Linked DNA regions of Homo sapiens: region 2 is linked to region 1. The links come from fine-mapping of genetic effects on gene expression. A gene starts in region 1. The other region holds a variant in brackets. All regions are shown on one strand. Distances are between the middles of the regions.

The links. PIP is the estimated chance that this variant, and not a neighbour inherited with it, causes the effect.
Region 2: its variant is the best candidate, but not a certain one, in a credible set for the expression of SLC25A46 in tibial artery (GTEx, PIP 0.90).

Annotation. Positions count from the first base shown.
Region 1 is chr5:110,736,803-110,742,193 of GRCh38, forward strand. It overlaps SLC25A46 (solute carrier family 25 member 46), which reads left to right and starts at 2,205. Exons shown (of 8, transcript NM_138773.4): 1 at 2,205-2,600; 2 at 5,245-5,287. The coding sequence starts at 2,318. It also overlaps a transcript of TMEM232 not described here. RefSeq lists enhancers at 1,788-1,837, 2,088-2,217, 2,228-2,297, 3,542-4,043, 4,044-4,543.
Region 2 is chr5:110,713,295-110,718,685 of GRCh38, forward strand. The region is part of intron 1 of TMEM232 (transmembrane protein 232); the gene reads right to left. Among named protein-coding and RNA genes, the nearest start is that of TMEM232, 11 kb to the right of the region's middle. The variant T/C (reference allele first, on the strand shown) is at 3,049.

The sequences.
Region 1 (5,391 bases):
CTGGCACCTAGCCTCCTTTCAGCTCTCATTTCCTATCACTTTCACCCTTTCTCACTGGCTACCTAGTTTGCTATCGGGGCGTTTCTCTTGCTCAGCTCTGCCTGGAAAACTTCTCCCACATATTCACAAATGGCTCACTCCCTCACTTCATTCAGTTCTCTGCTCAAAGGTCACTTCTTCAGAGAGGACTTCCTTATTCTAAAAAAAAAAAAAAAAAGCTTCCTTTATTGCTCACTTAGGCTTTTTTAATACAATCATGTCATTATTTGACATTGCACTATATTTGACAGGATATATTTATCTGTTCTTTGTCTCCCTAAACTAGAATGTCAGTTCTAACAATGCAAGCACCTTGTCTGGCTTATTTATCATTCTATCCTTATTGCTTAAAATAGTATCTGACACGAGATAGGTGCTTAATAAATATATTTTTGTTAAACAACTGTATGGATATACACTTTAAATAATAAATTATTAATCAATAATAATTATTTGATATTTGCATTCCTGCTTATTTTTTTCCTATTATGAGCAAGCATGCCATAAACATATGTATGTTATCCATGCCAGAAACATGTAAAAAACCCCTATATTTGTTTTCTAAGATTTTGGAGTCAAAAAATATGGTTATTTTTACAGTTTTTGATACATAGTGCCAAACTGCTCTCCATCAGAAAGTTATGTTTTATATCACTTCAGAAATTAATGAAAGCTACTTTCTTCTCACCTGGAAAGACAATGTGCATTTTCCCTTTTAAACACCTTAATACGTGAAAGATAATTAAGATTTACCTTTTTTCAATTAGTAAAGGACTTTTTATATGATATTATCTATTTACACTTCCTTTTTTTGTATGAATTGCCTCTACATGTCCTTTGCTCATATTTCTGATTTGCCTTTATTCATTGGTATGAACTCTTTGTACATTAAAGCTACTGTTCCATTGTTTAAACCATGTTAAAATGTCATTTTTCTGTTTGTGATTTGCCTTTCAATTGTGATTACTATATATTTTAAAATTTACTATATGGACATTTAAATTTTATACAGTCAAGAGACTCAACACCTTTGCCCAAGCTGCATCGCAATCAAATTTAAGAATGTCAATTCGTTATTTAAAAATGTTAATTATACATTTTAATGTACGCTATCAAAATATCTCATGTAACCCATAAATATATACACCTACTATACACCCATAAAAAATAAAAAGTGATAAAACCACAGAAAAAAATGTCAGTTCAATCAAAACAAAGTTGATTATCACTCTCAATCAAGGTTCGCATCTGGAAGATCGAGAACTGCACGTCAGAGTTCTCTTGGAAAAGCTCTAGGAATCCTGGGCTTCCAACGAGTTGAAGGAACATAGGATGAAACCATGGAAGTCTTCCTCAGATCTGGGGAGGGAGCCTGGCCCAAGAGCCCGTGGAGCTAATGAAAACAGGTAGTAGGGGACGCTCTACAGTAGTCCTCTCAGTTATTCAATTAGAGGTCCCAATTTTGAACGATATAACTGGGATTTCAATACCCTGAGTGATTTAGACACATCAGAAAAAAATACGACAGAAAACTATAGTTTCTTTACAGCCTTAGAAAAGGAAAACGCGTAATTTCTAACTCCAGGAGGACAGTATTCGAGTACGTGGGTTTCTTTCACCCCCGACGTGCACTTCAACTTTTAAAATGCTTGCTCTGGTGGTCCACAGTACTTTCGCGTTCACTGGGCGGTACCATATCTCTCAATAGATTTGATCCAAAACCCCAAGTGCGGGAGACAAAGCTAGGTGGAACGTTATTAACCCTCCACAACTCCAACCTCTACTAGCTTCCTCGGAGCAGGCGAGGCACCAGGCCCGTGAGAAAACACTGAGATCTGGGGCGTAGCTGTGACATGGGGTATTTCTGGCCGGGATCTCACCGGGTAGGCTCCACCCGCGGGTTATCGGCTCCCTCCAAGAAGCATCTTTGAACTCCTCCCATGCAGGCCCTATTCCTACACCAGTTCTCTTTCTGGAATCTCTTTGGTACTGTGTTTCATTAATCCCACAACCATATTCCCACCTATTCCCTAACGACAACAAACTTTTAAGGTCCAGGTTACCGCCGCGTCTCCCTAGCAACCGTGCCCTTTAATGGTTGCCGGAAGAGGCTATAATCACGTGCTCCGAAGACTTCCGGGTTTCCAACGTGACTTCCGGTTGTCAGAATTTACCCCTGACGCGGCGGCGGCCGACGGGAAGCTGTGTGTGCTTAGGTCGTGGTGGCCCCGGTGGTGGTGGGCTCCGGGCGGGCTCGCGTCATCCTGCCCCCGCTGCGATGCATCCGCGGCGCCCGGACGGATTTGATGGCTTGGGCTACCGGGGTGGTGCCCGGGACGAGCAGGGCTTTGGCGGCGCCTTCCCTGCAAGGTCCTTCAGCACCGGGTCGGACCTGGGCCACTGGGTGACGACTCCCCCAGATATCCCCGGCAGCCGCAACCTGCACTGGGGCGAGAAGAGCCCGCCCTACGGCGTGCCCACCACCTCCACCCCGTACGAAGGCCCCACGGAGGAACCCTTTTCCAGTGGCGGCGGCGGCAGTGTGCAGGGGCAGAGCAGTGGTGAGAAGCATGGGGACCGACACAGGGATGAGGGGTTACTGGGGCCGCGGCTTGCGGCCTGCAGACCCCGGAAGCGGCGCAGAGGATCCCGCCTCCTATTCCTTCTCATCCTATCGCGCGCCACACCCTTTGCCCTCCTTTGGTCCTCTGCCCCTGAGGCTGGCCTCCTCTTCCTCACAAACGAATTCTCCTGGATCAACTCCAAAAAAGACATCTGCCTTAGCTATGGGGTGCATAGCAGGAATTTTTAGAGGTTTTGGTGTCTCAACTGATGGTCTGAGTTAAAAAGGAGATTGGATTATTAACTGTTCCCTGATTCACTTTGGCAGCTCTATTTTCTTGATTTAATTAATTAATTAATGTGTTTACTTGTAGTTTTGTGTTCTGAAAAGAGAAGCCTTTCAGCATAAGCATACTTGGGTTCAAACTTGGTTGTGCCACTCGTAATCTGAACAACTTAACCTCTGTGAGCCCTCAGTTTTCTCATCTTTAAGATGTGTAGAAGAATCCTGTATGGGACACATAGGCTAAAAAAAAAAAGTTTCCTTCCTTTTCCTTTTTGAACACAGGAGTTTTGTCTGCTTTTCAGATCCCCAGTCTAGAAAGTTTCCTTCCTATAATTTTCCTTTCTGCTTTCCTTCTGCTGACCTAAAAACTACATATAAAAGTTAGAAACACTGATACAATTTCAAGATAGGACTTCGGAATCATGACATAATTATTCTCCATGGGATGTCAGAAAAGCTGCAACACTGCATGATGTAGATATTTTCAACATCCTTTTTTATTCATAAAATGTGAATAATGGCTACCTCTTTCTATTCTTCTGGAATTGTTAGAATAATAGATTAATGGTATTAATATTAAATTTATTGTAGAAATCAGCTTTATTCTTATTTCCTCGACTTTGACTTGGAAGTACAATAATATTTAACTAAGAAGAACAGACTAACGAATGTCTAGTGAGTAAATGAGGATGTGAAGAAAGATAGATGACTTACCTAGCTAATTGTCATACAATTAGCTTTTTGACTCTTCCCGGTTTAAAGTTATGCTTTGGTGGTTACAATGAGGAGGAGTTCCTTGACACAAGCAGGGGTTTATTTTGCAGCCTTAACAGGTGGGTGAATGTTAATTTTGCAACAAAGATAGACACCTAAGAGACTTACACAGTAAACAAGATTAAACCTTCCTAACACCTTCCAGAAAATGCTAGTAGCATTTTCTGTTGCTATTTGGGGATGATCTATACATACAAAATGGGTAAGGCCGGGCGTGGTGGCTCACGCCTGTAATCCTAGCACTTTGGGAGGCCAAGGCGGGCGGATCACGAGGTCAGGAGATCGAGACCATCCTGGCTAACACGATGAAACCCCGTCTCCACTAAAAAATAGAAAAAATTAGCCGGGCGTGGTGGCGGATGCCTGTAGTCCCAGCTACTCGGGAGGCTGAGGCAGGAGAATGGCGTGAACCCGGGAGGCGGAGCTTGCAGTGAGCCGAGATCGCGTCACTGCACTCCAGCCTGGGCGACAGAGCGAGACTCCGTCTCAAAACAAACAAAAAAAGGTAAAATCTAAGGTAAAAGTACCGTAGGTGGGTAAAAGAAGCTTTCTATTTAGCTTATACATTTTTCTAGGGTAAACTGCGTAATTTCCCAGGAACATGCTTAGGTGGCCTTGTTCTGATTGAAAGGGAATAGTGAGGGCAGTTGCTTCACTTGAAAGAGAAGAGGAGAGAAAGAATTGTAACTTGTGAATATTGTATTATAGTTAGAATTTGATGTCTGGTCCCCTGGGGTTGTAATAGTTCACCACTATGACTTTGAGTTTAGTCAAGAAGAAAGGCTTTTCTCTTTTGACATATGCATAGGAATGTTCCCAGCTGTGAACTTTTCCAGTAACATAACAGACATACCATCTGTAGTAGCATTTAGGTATCCAGTAACCTACTCCAATTAATTAAACAGCTAGCCTCAAACTATTTAAAACTTGAAGAGATGGGGGAGAGCTGTATTTACCCATTTTGGTTATCCCTAAGTACCCTTTCAAGTTAATAATTTAGAGGTGCTTTACTTGTAGTTATTGGTTTAATAAAGTGCTCTCCGTCAGTAACAGTGAATAACTAGTTTTACAGCATAAGAGGTAAAGTCGCAGGTGGAATATCAGCTGCGGCCAACCATGGAAAATTTTTTATTTGATTGGAATCAGAAGCTGAAAACTGGTAGCCCTTAGGTTCTGTCCGGATATTTGTTTCATTAGGCCAAGACAATGTGTTAACAGTTTTTGAAATAGTTGTCCAGGACTTTAAAATTGGAAGCTTTTATATAAAATGAGAATATCTTTTTTTGAAAAAATTACAACTTCAAAACCCTGGGCCCACACTCTAATGTGGCAACAATGAATTGGAGTGAAAGCGTAATTGTGCTTTAAACACTCTACACCTTGCAATTTGCCACAGACCCCAGCAGAGTCCTTCATTCATTTAAATTATTTACCTGGCCCCTATCAGAATTTGACTTTGAGGTTTAAATGAACAGCAGGTTAATAAAATAAATTTTTTAAAATTGTTTTGAGACTAAACCTAAATTGTCAGTAATTGGTTATCAGTAATCTTATTTTTTTATTTCTATTTTTTTTTACTTTAGAACAGCTGAATAGATTTGCTGGATTTGGTATTGGACTTGCAAGGTAATGTTTTATCTAAAGACGTTTACAGCTTTTATTTATTGAATTTAGAGTTTTTCTTTAATTTACAATATTAAATGATTATTATTGCTTCCTTTAGGTTGTTT
Region 2 (5,391 bases), 24 kb before region 1:
AAAATATTTATATATAAAGAATGAGTAAGACCTAGTATTTGATAGTACAATGGGCTTACTATAGTCAATAATAATTTAATTATAAATTTAAAAATAACTAAAGGAGTATAATTGGATTGTTTATAACTCAAAGTATAAATGCTGAGGAGATAGATTCCCCATTTAGCATATTGTGATTATTATGCATTGCAAGCCTGTATCAAAATATAATATGTGTCCCATAAATATATACACCTACTATGCACCCATAAGAAAAAAAAATAAGACTTAAGTTTATGAGCTAAAGCAATAAAGCTATTCATTTCAAAATTTGAAAAACAAAATTTAAGTGACCCAAGATGTCTGCTGATTTGACATACAGATAACAAAAACTTGGCCTATAAACTAAAGCTTGTTAACAAAAGACCACGAGATCTATGGAGAAAAAAGACAGCTTTATCTTCTTAAAAAAAATCAATCTTCAGATTAGGGAGATGCAGCCTTCTGTAAAACAGAAGTGCACTCCCAAGCTGGGTGGCAGAGAGTTAGAAATTATAAAGGCAAACTGCAGTGCAAAGAACTGTAGTCAGGGCAGTGAGGAACAGTCTTGATGGGAAAACTTAAACCCCAAATCACCAGCCTCTCTTAGTTGGCTGGTTCCAGGTGGTTGGTGGGTTGGCATCAGGTGGTCTTTAATGGTCAGTTGAAGAATTCCCAGCTGCAATTGTTTTTCAGGAACTATTCCTTGACTTGGTTGCAGAAAAACAAATTTTGCAATACTTTCTAAGGACAGAGAGTGTGACTACACCCCTCACCCTGCCATGGACTCTTGGGTCTCCTTTTACTTTTGAGCCACAGGAAGTTTATCTTGTCTGTTAACTGAGAGTATAATTTGGCAAGTTGGAACTCCCTGCTGCAGGGCTGGAGGCTGTCAAACATTTCATTGACACGTACTGATTACAACCTTGTCCATCAGATAAAACAGGATATAATCAATCATCTCCCTCCAGAGACTAGGACACCTATATGCTCATTAACCCTATATACAGTGGTAACTACATATTTGCTTTATCTTTTGTATAAAGTCTCTGAACACCAATCAAAATAGAAAGAATGTCACCTTTGTTTCACTGCTCCCCTTCTCCTATTTTCTGTGTAATAGAACTGTGCCTTGTATAGCCCACTCGAGGACATATTCTCAGTTTGGGGTAAGTTTGTGTTTCCCAGGCTATTAATCCTTGAAATTGGCTTAGAATAAAATTAACTTAAAATTTCTTTAAGGTGTAATGTCTGTTATTTAACCTTTTAGTTGACACAATGTCCAATACACAATGTGAAATACACACACACACACAAACTAGAAATAAAGAATTATTTTTGACCAGTTTATATTTAGCACTACCAAATAGAATTCAAATTATTCATTTTAAGTGACTGTCATTTAGAAAACTCAATTTGATTCAGTTTTCACAAAACATAAAAGTGATAATAATGTTTGAGATTTCTGTATTTGAGAGATACAAATACAATTAAAATATGGTGCCTTTCCTTAGGAAATTAAATCTAGAGAAAAAGGACTGACCTATAAACTAACATTATCACATCTGAAGATCCTAAATTCCATGATAATGCTGGGGTGATTTTAGGAGAATTACTCAAGAAAAAAGTTTGATTAATATCACATTCTGTAAAAGTATGACAAGAGCTAGAGAATAGACAAATATAAATTTAAATATGAATAAGACATATTTTACACATATCTGTCTCTTAACAGGGTTCCTTGTCTATTTTTGCCCCTTCATTCAAAGAATATAAATAACTTTATCCAATAAACAATATACCTAAAATTTGAAAGTAGCTAAAAATACAATTCTTTCTCTTCAAAACCATAAAAGAACATGAAGGCTTTTAATTGTTTTGTAATCTAACCAGCCTAAATCAATGTCATTTAGGTCATTCATGAAGGAGCGAAGGAATCAATAGAGATGAAACAGTAATTAAAGAAATTATGAAAAAAAACCATAGGCTGAAGAAATATAAATTTTGTAATTAAAAGGACTAAGAAAAGCAAGCAAAAGTATAGAGACTAAATGTAAATGACCAGTGAACATAAGAAATAATACTAAACTGAATAGAGGAAATGATTGATTTGTGGCTCACTAAACAAGACAGAATTGGTCATGAAGAACTGAACACTGAATGTCACTGTAAATATTCAAAAGACTGGCTGTAGAAAGTTAGGAAGCTTCTTGATATAAAATATCCGAATATCTTTATGAAAATACATTCTGCTGACAATTACATTAATACATTTTCTAAGGTGATACCTGATGAAAGCTGCAAACCAAAAATAAAATTCTAAGCCCGCTTCGACCCTAACCATCTGAATGGACTCCTTCCTCTCAGCCAGGGCACTCCAGAGTTAACCTAAAAGACTGGTTCAGGCCATGATGGAAAGCAGGGGGTGGTCAGACATGCCTCATTATACCTCCTCCCTTTTGGAATGCAGGGAAAGCTGGCCAGCATTTAACATCAACACAGACCTTAAGTCTGATAAGAAATATTTACAATCTATTCTCTCTGAAGCCTGCTACCTGGAGAATTCATCTACATGATAAAACTTTGGTCGCTATAACCTCTTATTATAAACCAGACATTCCTTTCTACTGATAATAACTCTTTCAACCAATTGCCAATCAGAAAATTTTTAAATCTACCTATGTCCTGGAACCCACCACTCCCAGCTTTGAGTTGTCCCACCTTTCTAGACCAAGCCAATGTATATCTTAATTGTATTTGATTGGTGCCTCATGTCTCCCTAAAATGTATAAAACCAAGCTGTACCCTGACCACCTTGGGCACATATTCTTAGGGTCTCCTGAGGACTGTGTCATGGGCCATGGGTACTCGTATTTGGCTCAGAATACATTTCTTCAAATATTTTACAGCAGGGGGCCCCGATCTTTTTGGCACCAGAGACCAGTTTGGTGGAAGAAAATTTTTCCACAGATGGGGTGGGAGAATTATTTTCAGATGATTCAAGTGCATTCCATTTACGATGCACTTTAT[T/C]TCTATTATTGTTACATTGTAAGTAATAATGAAATAATTATACAACTCCCCATAATGTAGAATCAGTGGGAGACCTAAGCTTGTTTTCCTGCAACCAGACAGTTCCATCTGGTGGCGATGGGAGACAGTGACAGATCATCAGTCATTAGATTCTCATAAGGAGCTCACAACCAAGATCTCTTGCATGCACAGTTCACAATAGAGTTTGCACTCCTATGAGAATCTAATGCTGCTGCTGATCTGACAGGAGGTAGAGCTCAAGTGGTAATGTAAGCAAAGGGGAGTGGCTATAAATACAAATGAAACTTCATTTGCTCACTCACCACTCACCTCTTGCTGTGGTTACTAACAGGCCACGGCATTAGTCTGTGGCCAGGGTTATGGGGATCCCTGTTTTACAGATTGTCACTCTTTTTGCCAACTAAACCTTAGTCCTAAACTTGAAGAAACAGTTCTGTACTGGTGCTGTGTTTTAGAAGAACATTAACCATGACTGAGGAAGAAAAGCTACAGGTTTTAAGGACACTAAGCACTGGTTGGCTTTTTTGTGTGTGTAGCAATGGTACAGGATAAACTGGACAGTAATTACAAAAAGCCAATGCACACAGTGTATGAAGTATACAGCAATTTGTCTATCCATCACTAAGCAGACAATAAAGTAGGGATAATCAGAGTATTTCTAGACTAGTTGAAAGACCACTTTGTACCAGGGACATGAGGTCATTATAGGCAATCTGGACTAGAACAAAAACTGTAAAATTTATTCTTCTCAGACAACTGCCCTTTATATCCTCTCCTGGTCCTCTTGTAAAAAGTAACATTTTCAGTATTTGTTACCCCACCCCCCGCCACATACACACACACAATGTAACATCCGTGACAAAGACATATGGCCATGAAATTTTATATTCTATTAATAAAAGTATAAAGTTTTCTTTAACTGTGGGCTAGCTGTAGTTAACAGAGGTCCAAGAATCCAAGATCTGAATGAGTTCAGTTTTAATGACGCCATTTACTCTGTTGCTAATACTTGGACCCATGCTGATTTGACATGATCCTTGAAAAAGTCATTTAAAAGGCCAACTATCAAAGTATTAACTCATTACTCAGTAATTCTGCTTCCATCCCATCATAAGTTGCTCAAATCCCATCTGACAACAAAGATAGCAAAACTGATGTGTCCTCTTGCCCAATGTCCTTAAGCAACCTAAGGTACGATTTAAGTCATTGTGTTTATATACAGGTCTGATATGATTTGGCTCTGTCCCCACCCAAATCTCATCTCGAATTGTAACCTCCATAATCCTCACATGTTGAGAGAGGAACTTGGTGGGAGGTGACTGGATCATGGGGTGGTTTCTTCCATGCTGTTCTCATGATAATGAGGGAGTTATCAGGAGATGTGATGGTTTTATAAGGGGCTCTCCCCCTTTCACTCCTCACTCTTCTCTCTCCTGACACCATGTGAAGGTCCTTGCTTCCCCTTTGCTTTCTGCCACAACTGCATGTTTCCTGAGGCCTCCCCAGCTATGTGGAACTGTGAGTCAATTAAACCTCTTTCCTTTATAAATTACCCAGTCTCAGGTAGTATGTGTATAGCAGTGAGAATGGACTAATACAAGGTCTTTAACTTAGTTCAAATCTGTATGTGTTTAAAAGTATATTGAATATTTTTCTTAGAACTAAGAAGGATCTGAATATTTTTGGTCTTTAATTATCCAATTATTTCACTTGTCAGTTTATTTCTATATAAACTGTAATATTAAAATTATACATATTTGTCAAATTTAGTATAAATCTACATATATTTGTTTGCAAATATGTTTATGTATTTGATTATAGAATGCCGTGCTAGATAGACTTCATTGGGGATATTCTGTGTTATCATTTTAAAAATCAGAAAAAATCTGAATTCCAAAAGTCTACCTCCAAGGCTTTCAGATAGGTGATTAAGAACTGTATCCATACCAGGATTATTATGAAGTTTTCAAAACAGAATACATCTTAAGGCGAAAATATTAAATTGCAAAATTATATTGATGAGAAGCATTTCTGGATAGCTGTTAATCTTATTTATGTTCTTTGTATGTGATGAGTGAGAAGCATTTCTGGATAGCTGTTAATCTTATTTATGTTCTTTGTATGTGATGAGTCATTATCTCTTGCTGCTTTCCAGATTTTCTCTTTGCAGTTAGCTTCCAGCATTTTTCCTATGAAACGTCTGAGAGTGGATTTCTTCTGTATTTATCCTAATTGGAGTTCACTGAGCTTCTTAGGTGTGAAGATTAATTTTTTTTTAGTGTTTGTGAAGTTTTTTGCCATTATCTCCTTGAATATTTTTTA